3 linked regions of the Homo sapiens genome follow. The protein of the gene in region 1 interacts with the protein of each later gene in a pairwise test. Each region holds a gene or a part of one and is shown on either strand. Other genes may lie near its edges.

The links.
Region 2: the proteins of MYO5B (region 1) and BNIP2 interact in binary tests that used the Homo sapiens proteins (3 or more experiments, as listed by UniProt).
Region 3: the proteins of MYO5B (region 1) and RAB8A interact in a two-hybrid assay, tested with the Homo sapiens proteins (one study listed by BioGRID).

Annotation. Positions count from the first base shown.
Region 1 is NC_000018.10:49,901,641-49,905,291, forward strand, and holds part of MYO5B (unconventional myosin-Vb), read right to left. Parts: intron 3,189-3,651; coding exon 3,032-3,188; intron 1,194-3,031; coding exon 954-1,193; intron 1-953. UniProt on the Homo sapiens protein: May be involved in vesicular trafficking via its association with the CART complex. The CART complex is necessary for efficient transferrin receptor recycling but not for EGFR degradation.
Region 2 is NC_000015.10:59,682,810-59,686,460, reverse strand, and holds part of BNIP2 (BCL2/adenovirus E1B 19 kDa protein-interacting protein 2), read left to right. Parts: intron 1-3,651.
Region 3 is NC_000019.10:16,125,389-16,129,039, forward strand, and holds part of RAB8A (ras-related protein Rab-8A), read left to right. Parts: exon of another isoform or gene 1-81; coding exon 82-159; exon of another isoform or gene 160-1,599; intron 1,600-2,048; coding exon 2,049-2,138; intron 2,139-2,637; coding exon 2,638-2,703; intron 2,704-3,651. UniProt on the Homo sapiens protein: The small GTPases Rab are key regulators of intracellular membrane trafficking, from the formation of transport vesicles to their fusion with membranes.

The sequences.
Region 1 (3,651 bases):
CAGCCACTCAACTTTTAAGCAGAAGAACTGAATTCTGATTTCCAAAGCAAACACTCTTTCCAAAAGAGGCAGACAGACAGATAGGCAGACAGAGAGACAGAAGGGCAAAGTGATGCAGAGCATGGGCTCTGGAGCCAGACAGCTGGGGTTCAAACCTCGGCCCTGCCACTGCCACCTGTGTGACTTTAGGATGCCATGTGCCCTTCCAGTGTCTTCAATTGTACAAAAAGGGGGATGGTAATACTTGCCGTAGGAGGGCCGCTATATTAGACAAGCTACTCCAGTCAAAGCGCCAGCCCCATACCCCACACAGCAAGCCCTCCATGCACACCAGCTGCTGCTGCATTACCCTATGTCACCCCTGCAAGGGCAAAACACCAGCACCTTGGGCTAGTGTGTCAGTTTCCTATTGCTGCTGCAACAAGTTACCACCAAGTTATGACTCAAGATAGCATAAATCATTATCTTACAGCTCTGGAGGTCAGGAGTCTGAAGGGGTTGGCACGGCTGCATTCTTTCTGGACGCTCTAGGGGAGAGTCCATGTCTTCGTCTTCTCTGGCTTCTCAAGGCTGCCTGCATCCCTCCCACCTCTGATTCTGTCATCACTTCTTCTCTGAACTTGATCCTCCAGCCTCCCTCTTAGGAGGACCCCTGTTATATCAAGCTCACCTGGCTCACCCAGGATACTCTTCCCATCCTACAGTTCTTAATTTAATTGCATCTGCAAAGTCCCTTTTGCCATATAAGGTAACACACTCACAGATCCCAGGGCTGAGGGTATCTTTAGGGGTCACTGATCTGCCTGCCACAGTTAGTATCTGCTGTGGTCTGAGGACGTCTGTGCTCCCTCGGGTCTTCGGCATGTGCAGTTCCTCAAGGAAGCTGTGGGCTCTCTCAAAATGCTCCAGTACCCAAGCCCCCGACACCCAGGTAGGGAGCTGCAGACACTGACCTGCTCATCGATCTTCCGCTGCAGCTGGACCACCTTGTTCTCCATGCCCACGTTGAGACGTTTCAGATGCTCTGCTGAGCGGGCCTCAATCCTGAGGGCCTTCAGCTCCCGCCTGGCCTTGAGCATCCGGAAGGCACACTGGATGACAATGGCTGCATCCCGCAGCCGCTGGAAGTGCCTGCGTGCCATCCAGCCCCGCACGTGCTTCTGGATGGTGGTGGCCTTGTGCTCCATGAGGACCTGGCGGGAAACAAGGATACACATCTTGTGGGTTTGCACTGCAGGACAGGAGTGAAGGAAGCATACATCACTGCCTGTGGAGGGAAGAGGCCAGGGCAGCCTTGGTTCTAGGAGTTACACAGACAATGTGCCCCCTAAGATCTAAGGCTTTGGTGGTTGTTTTATAACACATTTCAGCGAGGTTCTGCGCCTACATATCCACAGGGAATCAGCTGTCAAACTCTTTTCAGCTTTGTTTTACTTTTTGTTTTATGGGTTAGGAAACCACAGTCTGAAAACCTCAAGGTTGTAGGGGCCTAATGATCATCCACTTGCTCTCTACCCATTTACCAGGTGGAGGTCCCCTCCTGGTGGCACTGAGCTGGAAGTGAGATACTTCAGTGAGTGTCCACAGCAGGCTAATGGCTTATAATTACAAACTTGGTGTGTAATTCACTGTTTTTTTTTTTCTACCAAGTTAAAAAACCACTCAGGATATGAAAGCATCATCAGTGTGCTCGCCCTAATACCTGGTAAAATAAATGTTTGTGGAATAAATGAGTAAACAAGCAAACAGGCTGAGCAATGAACAGTGCCACAGCCATGAGTGACAGAGCTGGGAGCCACATCAGTGCTCACTCTTTGCACATGCTGCCCCTGCTGAGAAACTCCCAAACATCACCTGCCCCTTCCATGGGAGCAGCACACCAACGCCACCCATCACCCAAGAACACTCACAGAACCTTCTCCCAATGGCCTGGGTTTCTCTACATACTACACCAGGGTGTGCTCCACCCTGACCACATTTTTATTATTATCAATTTCGTGCTTTACTTTTATTATTTAGAAAATCACACCTTCTGTGATCATAGAAGAGACAGATGTTCATTTAATGAAAAAGAAAACCATTTTAGACATTTCCTTCCAATTCGTGTTTCAAGTCAGCTCTGTGCTTCAGATGTGTTGGTGTTACCTGGTTGAACAGATGTGTCCTGATGTGGGGCTCCTGAACCCAAGGGTTTTGGCTTCACTGGAACAACACAAAGAGCAAGAACCTGGCAGGGAAGAGGTCGGGGCCTCCCTCCTGACCTCACCATGTTGGGCTTCAAGCTCCTGATCCGTTAAGTGGAGGAGTTAGACCTGATGATGCCCAATACCACCGCCTGCCCTCAAGTGTGAATGAGCCCTAGGTGGGTCACCTGGCCCTGCTGTTGGCTGGCCTGGGCCCTCAGGCAGGTGACCTGGCTTCTCTGAGCAACTCAGGTATCAGAAGGGGTGTGAAAACTGCCATGATTGGATGCTGGGCCCCTTCAAAACTCATGTTGAAATCTGATCCCCTATGTTGGAGATGGAGTCTAACAGGAGATGTTTGAGTCATAGAGGCAGATCCCTCATGAACAAATAAATGCCCTTCTTCAAGGGTGATTTCTCACTGTTAGTTCTCATTAGAGCTGCTTGTTAAAAGAGCCACTCTTGTGCTTCCTCTCTCACCATGCGACCTCTGCACACACCGGCTTCCACCTCCCACCATGAGTGGAAGCAGCCTGAGGCCCTCTCCAGAAGCAGATGTTCAATTGTGAACTTTCTGGCCACCAGAATTGTGAGCCAAATAAACCTCTTTTCTTCATAAATCACCCAGCCTCAGATATTGTTATAGCAACATTTAATGGACTAAGACAACAGTATGCACACCCTTCCTACCTTGTGGGACTTCAGAAAGGATTTGGTGAGAGCAGAGATGTGAAAGCATTTAGAAAAAAGTTGGGAGTGCTTGACAGAGGTTCACGTTGGCAGTAATTCATCTGTTGCCACTTTAGTTCTGAATCTGCAGCCCTGAGGCCCTCAGAGTGGCTACTCACCTGGCGGTAGGTTCTCCGCACAAACATGGCCCGGGTGAAGGCCTGGATAACAACGGCAGCTCTGCGGACCCTCTGGTAGGCCTGGCGGGCCCTCTGCATGCGGTAATGTTTCTGGAGCACCACAGCCGCTCTGATCCTCCGCAGGTGCTCAGCCAGCCTGGGGAGCAAGAGGAAACAGGCAGTGTCAGGGAGAGAGTATTGACCGCCCTGATGCAGAGAACCCTGAGACATCTGCAAATGCAAACCTCTCCCTCTGTGGCCCTACCTGGACACACCCAGGGGAAACCAACTCTCTTCACCCCTAACAAATGTAGCAATGCCTTAGGCATTTGACGTTGTGGCTAGAAAAGCAGTGTTAGTTCTTTCCTTATGGTCTCGAAAGGCTTCCCACAAGCTTCAAACTCAGTCAGAGTCTGACTTCCTCTATGATCCTTATCTGAGCACTCTTCTACCTCACTGTGCCTGGGCAGTCCTCAACTACTTCACCAGTAGCATTCTACATCATGTGTTCACATTGCTGCCTGTCCTCTGTACCTCCCCAGGCTTGGAGATCCCAGGGGCTGTGTCTCCATCATCCTGGACCCACTGTAGGCACTGGGTAAGTGTTTGCTGAATGACTA
Region 2 (3,651 bases), on another chromosome or scaffold:
AACTGCATATAGTAAAATCACTGTGTAAAATTGTGTTATAATCTAAACAGTTCTAATGCGATCTTAAAAAAAATTGTAGAGACAGATCTCACTGTGTTGCCCAAGCTAGGCTTGAACTTCTGGGCTTAAACCATCTTCCCACCTTGTCCTCCAAAGGTGTTAGGATTACAGGAGTGAGCCACTGAGCCTGGCCTAAATGTGATCTTAACATTTAATTTTTGCTTATGTTGCTAAACTGCCTGGGGAAAGCTGCTTCATCCTGGTTGGATTTACCAGTACTCCTCCCCCTTGAAGCTATGTCAGAAGGAATCAATTATCTCTTTGATTTTTAACCTAAGGTCAACAACTGTTTTGAATTTATCTTTATGACTGCAACAAGTAAGTGGCATAAGGATGTGCCACCACTACCAAGAGTCAATCTATTGAGAAATCAAGTTATTCCTGTGCCAACAGGTTATTTTAACAAATATCATCTTAAAGTGTTATTTCCCATTCTAATTTCCAAAAAAAAATACATGAACAAGAAATGGGAAGCAACAACAGTTAACTTGTGAGTCAGCAGTATCCTGATTTTCTTCGAAGAGGTTGTGGTTATATTAACTCCTTTCTTGTTTGTTTCCTGTTCTTAACAGCTGTTTGATGATAAAGTGCTTCCAAGAAACAGTACTCCCTCAATTGTTTAAATTGTTTTGATCTACCTAGTGTACTTTTCCCCTAAAATTCATGATGAAATGGTAGAGTAAATCTATCTATATCTCTCTCCCCAAGTTCTGTTTAACTAGATAATTGATTATCCTCAAACTAAATATCCATGTCTATGTGCTGAGGTATTAACACATGATTCAATATGATATTAAGGTAAAAATGGAATAAATAGGCTGAGATAGCTGAAAGACTTGGGCTGCCTGTGTTTCGAGGAGCTATTTAGTTTTTGTTGTTGTTTGTTTTGTTTTGTTTTTTGAGACAGAGTCTCCCTTTGTCACCCAGGCTGTAGTGCAGTGGTGCAATCTCAGCTCACTGCAACCTTCACCTCTGGGGTTCCAGCGATTCTCCTGCCTTAGCCTCCATAGTAGCTGGGATTACAGGCAGGCGCCACCACGCCTGGCTGATTTTTTGTATTTTTTGTGGAAACGGGGTATCACCATCTTGGTCAGGCTGGTCTCAAACTCCTGACCTCAGGTGATCCGCCCACCTCAGCCTCCCAAAGTGCTGGGATTACAGGTGTGAGCCACCACGTCCGGCCTCAAGGAGCTGTTTTCACAGAGACAAACTTGTTCCATTGGTTAAGCAGCTGAAAGGAATGGATTGTCTTCTAGAATTTCCCAAGATAAACCTTTCCTCTTACCAGTGAGGAACAATTTTACAAATAGAAATTAATATTGCTGGTGTGTAGTTTCCCACAGAATATTTTTGTTACATTTTTATGGGGTAACACATGACAAATCCTATTCATGTAGTTTAATAAGCAAAATAAGCCTAAGAGATTGAGCAAAGGTTTGCTGACCAGTGTCCATACCCTACAGGTAAGTATTATTTACTTAATTTTTATAGGCCTGTTATGTGCTAGGCACCATGGTAGGTGTTGGGAATATATTGGGTACAACTTTCAGTTTCTGCTTTTATTTTTGAAATGCTAAATATTTTTCTGAGTATTTGAGATATTTGAAAAAGACACCCAGACAACATCCTGGTGTGTTTTTCAACACACAATAAAAAGGTACGACAAGATAATAGAAAGCTTTTCTGATTATTGAATTTAGGAAAATACATCATTCGCTTTAGAGTGAGTACCAAAGACTTAAGAAAAGTTAAACATTGGGAAATACAGTAAATTAAACATCTAGAAAAGACTTACCAGTTTTCAGCCTTTAGTCATAGCATGCTTTGGTCTCACTTGAGCATTGTAATTCTAGAGTAGTAAGTATTTTCACCATTTGGGCTTGTTGATTGTAATTGTGGGCTCCTTTCTACTATTTCTGTTCTAAACAGAGGGGATTGTTTGGTAAGGTAGGTGTCCCTCTTTTTGTTTATTTTTCCCTCCCAACAGAGAAAGTGCTAAATAAGTAAAGATTATTTTAAATGTTTTTCATTAACTTATAAAAACTGCCTAGATCATTGTTTTCCCAGAGAATTAAAAACCTTACTCCTATATGTAAATGACTTTTTCAAGCAAATAAGTTGGTGTGGAAAAGTCAGCATCTACCATTTTTTTTCTGTGGTAACAAGTGTATCATCAAACATTGAAACCTTTTGGGAATGTTTAAAACCTTCTCTTGAGGGTAAGTAAAAATTCAAACTGGGAAGAGAGTCTTCCAGCCTTGGCAGAGATACAAATTTAGTTTACCTTGTGAAATCTAACACTTCAGGATATTTCCATTGTAATTTTGTCATTACGGAACATAAGGCTTTTTTCTTTGTAACTTTGTGCATCTTTTGAATGTTGACGTAGCAGATAAGATAGCTATAGGACATGACCACATTTTTCTTTTAGAAGACTGGTTGATGTGAATGGCTGACATAATTGATTTTATTTAATAAATATCTTTTAAAGTCACAGATAGTATTGTTTTAAAAATCAAATGGTATAGACGGACTTACTATGAAAAGCATTAGTCATTTTCTGCATTTCACCCTCTTTCCTCTGCTACTGGTTTTGCTCTGTCACCCAGACTGGAGTGCAATGGTGTGACCTCGGCTCGCTGCAACCTCCACCTCCCAGGTTCAAGCGATTCTCCTGCCTCAGCCTCCCAAGTAGCTGGGATTACAGGCGCCTGCCACCACATCCGGCTAATGTTTTTGTATTTTTAGTAGAGACTGGGTTTCACCGTGTTGGCCAGGCTGGTTTTGAACTCCTGACCTCAAGTGATCCGCCCACCTCGGCCTCCCAAAGTGCTAGGATTACAGGCGTGAGCCACCGCGCCCGGCCTAGTGTCAACGACTTTTAACTTTATTTTTAGTACTGCTAGTGATGCTCCGTATCTCTTAAATATGTTACTGCAAAAAGAAAAGAAAAGAACAGAAATATGTTACTGCTGTTTGTTGAATAACTTTAGACATCTATTGACTTGAATGTAAATGAACTAAATACTCGTGTATACCTCTTTCCTTCTATAGTTTTCACTGTTTTGTTGCATTGTTAACCAGTTGATCTTTACCTTACCTCAACTTCTATTTCTTACTCCATCACCAGAGGGAGTATCTCTAGATTTCTTACTTTTAAAATGAGGATATTGGACTCACGTGATTCCTTGGAAAAACTAAAACTAAAGTTCATGGCATATGTTAAAATACGTAGTTGCATAAAAGGGCATTCACCAAGTTCAGTGTTTGAAAACATATGCCGAGCTATATGAGAAGGGCATAGTATAGATATGAAACAAATCAAAAGATTGCATAATTCATTTACGGGACAAGTTATTGAATAGACTTCTTTAAGTGGCTCAGGAATTGTGGCATCAAACTATTGAGAAGGAAATATGAAAGACAGCACACCACCTGACTCTGCTGAATCATGAGTTTAAATATTATTGATTTACTATTATTTACGGTCTAGAATCAACCTCTATCCAAGGGACAGAAAATTTAATTATGAGTCTGTAATAAAGAACATTTTTATTTCTTACCCCACTTCAAATTTTTTAATATAATCCA
Region 3 (3,651 bases), on another chromosome or scaffold:
CCACTGTTCTCTGGTGCCGCTGAGGCCTCCCTTCCAGAGCCTGCAGCCGATCAGGCACCTGTGTCTTCTCTCCCCGCGCAGGGCATCATGCTGGTCTACGACATCACCAACGAGAAGTCCTTCGACAACATCCGGAACTGGATTCGCAACATTGAGGAGGTGAGGCCCTCCGGCTCCTCCCACTGTCCCTGCTTCAGTCCTTGTCCCAGAGCCCTCTGGTTTACTCATGAGAAGGCCAAGGTGCAGAGACACATACAGGCCACTTGCCCACAGCCTCCTAGTCAGGGACATGGTGGGAGCAGGGACTGAGATGCAAGCAGCCGGCCCCAGGGACCACACACTGGCCTGGCCCCACCCCGGAGCCCCTCGGAGCCCATCCCTCCAGCTAGGCTGTTGGATCTGGCCAGTGTCATGGTTATAAGAGAAAGGATATCCAAGCTTGTGGTCACCATGAGTGTTGGGTGCTTTCTAGAGAAGGAAGGGTCTAGCACAGGTGTGACCCTTGTAGTTGGAGGGTGTGGTGAGCAGGCGTCAGTTGTACTTTGAGCTATATCGGAGCAGGGTGTGACCTGGTACAAACGACCTGTGTTCAGACCTTGAACCATAGAGCAGTGAGAAGTAGGCCAACCCCTCCTCCCCTCCCAAAGCCAGCATCTTCATCTTCTGCTCCCCAAAGAGCTGACCTCACCCCCAAAGCCTTCCTGGCTGCCGGCACCTGCAGCTTTCTATAACTAACCATGTGGGGCTTCAGGTCTGAGGCACAGCCAGAGAACTTTTCCCATCTATAAAACCACAGCAAAAGGGCATATCACTGTCCACCCAGGACTCATGGACCTCCCAGGCCAGGCCGAGAGGCCACCCCATCATTTGTGAGTCATTGCACTGGGCTCACCTCCCCAGTGACCCTGAGAGGGCTGTGCTGCCAAATTTGCCAGTGCAGGGCTGCACCCCAGCTGGGAAAGCTGTCTTCATCCGTGGAGAGGAGGAGAGCCTGGTCTTTGTGAAAGGTCTCTGTTTCTGGCCAGCGGGCAGGAGCCACCTTCTGGTTCATGGGAAGTGAGGCAGGGAGTGGCGCAGTAGGTTCCAGAGACCAAGTCTGAGCTGGTGGAAGAAGACAGCAGTTTCCAGTGTCCCCGTCCTCCAGGAAGCGTGGTCCGCTCCATGGGGACCCAGGGAGACTTGACGAAGGAGCTGCCTTTGGGTATGAGGGCAGAGTTTGGGCAACATCAGACAGGGTGGTGAAGTGCCTGCAGCTGGTGACGGCCTCGAGTTGCGACCACCTCAGGCACGGCCTGTTTCTGGAGCCCAAAAATAGTTGAAATGTCAGGGCCAGGCGAGGTGGCTTATGCCTGTAATCCCAGCAGTTTGGGAGGCTGAGGCGGGCAGATCACCTGAGGTCAGAAGTTTGAGACCAGCCTAGCCAACATGGCGAAACTCTGTCTCTACTAAAAATACAAAAAATTAGCCTGGTATGGTGGCAGATGCCTGTAATCTCAGCTATTCGGGAGGTTGAGGATCGCTTGAACCTGAAGGCAGAGGTTGCAGTGAGCCGAGATCATGCCACTACACTCCAGCCTGGGAGACAGAACGAGACTCCATCTCAAAAAAAAACAAAAAAAAAAGTGTCAAAGCAGAAGGTCCCAGGACAACAGCTGGGGCCTCTTGCAGAGGAGCCAGGGAGGGAAGGAGGAAAGCCAAGGTCGGGGGGTAAATATCTCAGCCTCACTCACCTCCCATAGGCTAGACCCGCCCAGCATCCCAGGTGCGGGGGCTTGATTGATACAGCCATAGAAGCTGCCAGAAAGCATTTCAGAAAATGTGCATTTGCTCAGAGTAGCAGCTAGAACCCTGGCCCCAGCCCTGGCATTGGCTGTGTGACATGGGGCCGGCTGCTTGGCCTCTCTGAGCTTCAGCTTGTCCCTTAGACCAGGCTGTACCTAGCAGTCCTGACCCCACCGCTCTGATTTCTGGGGACAGACTGTGTGTTGGCAGAGGCACCTGGCCTGTGTCATCCGGTCTGATCCCCCGTCTGTCCCCCTCCCTCTCAGCACGCCTCTGCAGACGTCGAAAAGATGATACTCGGGAACAAGTGTGATGTGAATGACAAGAGACAAGTTTCCAAGGAACGGGGAGAAAAGGTGGGCATGGTGGCACAAGGGGCAGAGGGCCTCGGGGTCTTGGGGTTCTTGTGCAGAGGCCTTCCCCTGTCCCTCCTCTGCCCCAGGGGCCTGAGACGAGTTGGTCACCCCAGTGGGGCACGTGCCATGGGATGACAGAAGCACACACCCAGCCGGGGCTTCTTGGGTGCACTCTGCGGGCATCTCATCAAAACCTACCATGGCCCCGCTCCAGACTTTCAAGACCACAGGAGCGGGGAACAGAGCCATAGTTTGATCCCAGCAGGTCCCCGCCACCCTCCCATCTCAGCTGCCATCCCCAGCAACTCCATGCCCTGTGAGGCCCTGTGGAGGGGCATTCACTATAGAATTGAGGGAGTGATCCAGGAAGTCACGCCCACAGCCCCAGCCCTGTTGCTGCTCCCTCTTGGCGCCGGCCCTGCCTTCAGCTCCTGTTTTAGGCAAGCTCAGATGCGCCCGGCGGCTGGTGTGCTCATGCGTGTGCCTCCCTCTCTCACAGCTGGCCCTCGACTATGGAATCAAGTTCATGGAGACCAGCGCGAAGGCCAACATCAATGTGGAAAATGTGAGTCCCGGGCCCTGCTGGGAGACATGGGGCCTGCAGGATCGGCCCCTTCAGGCTAAAGGGGGAGCTGGCGTCCTCCGAGGAGGTCCTGCCAGACGGACCAGCCTCGGGCTCAGGGCTGCCAGTCAGTCCTCTGAGGGACATTTCCTGGGCAGTGCCACGTGCCAAGCACAGGCAGCCCCTGGGAATGTGCCATCAGCAGGGACAGGCACCACAAAGGGCACCTAGGACGCATCTCACGGGCTCTTGGGCAGCCCTGGGGAATAGGCACGGTTTTACAGGTGAGGAAACTAAGGCTCAGAAAGACCCAGCTCTGTGTTTACCCTCTCAGCCACACCACTCACCCTGGAGAGGCCCCTGTCAAAAAAGCCCAGACATAGCAGGGAGCCCTGATGGGACCTGGGCCCATGCCACCCTCCCCTCTCCACGGGGCGACCCCAGCCCTGCGGCCGATCCTGTGATGTTTCCCCATCCTAGTCATGTTTCCAAGGCGGATCTTCCATATCACTCCCGACCTAAAGTCTCTATGCTGACGTGAAGACAAAGGCTAGACTCCTTGCCTGGCGTGGAAGGCCCTCCCTCACCGGCTACAGCTGGTGTTTGCCACCCAGGGCTCAGGCCTTGCCCTCCCCAGGCCACCTGGGCTGCTCCCTTCTCCAATACGTCACTGCATTTCCCTCCTGTGTGCCCCTTTTTCTGCCTGCCAGGTTCCCTTTTCTAGTCAGGGCCTGGCCCTGGGGGCCTCTCCCCAAGAACACCTTCAGTCTCCCCTGGGCCTTCCTCCGCACCCCAAGCCACTCTCCTCTCCAGAACCTCCCACATCATGGGGATGTATGTTGGGATCACGCCTCCCGCCATCTCTGTATGTCCCCTCCTCAAGGCTGTGACAGCAGCTCAACCCTTGGCTGTGCTGGGAGATGAACCTGCTCCCGCTCCCAGCCCTGCCAG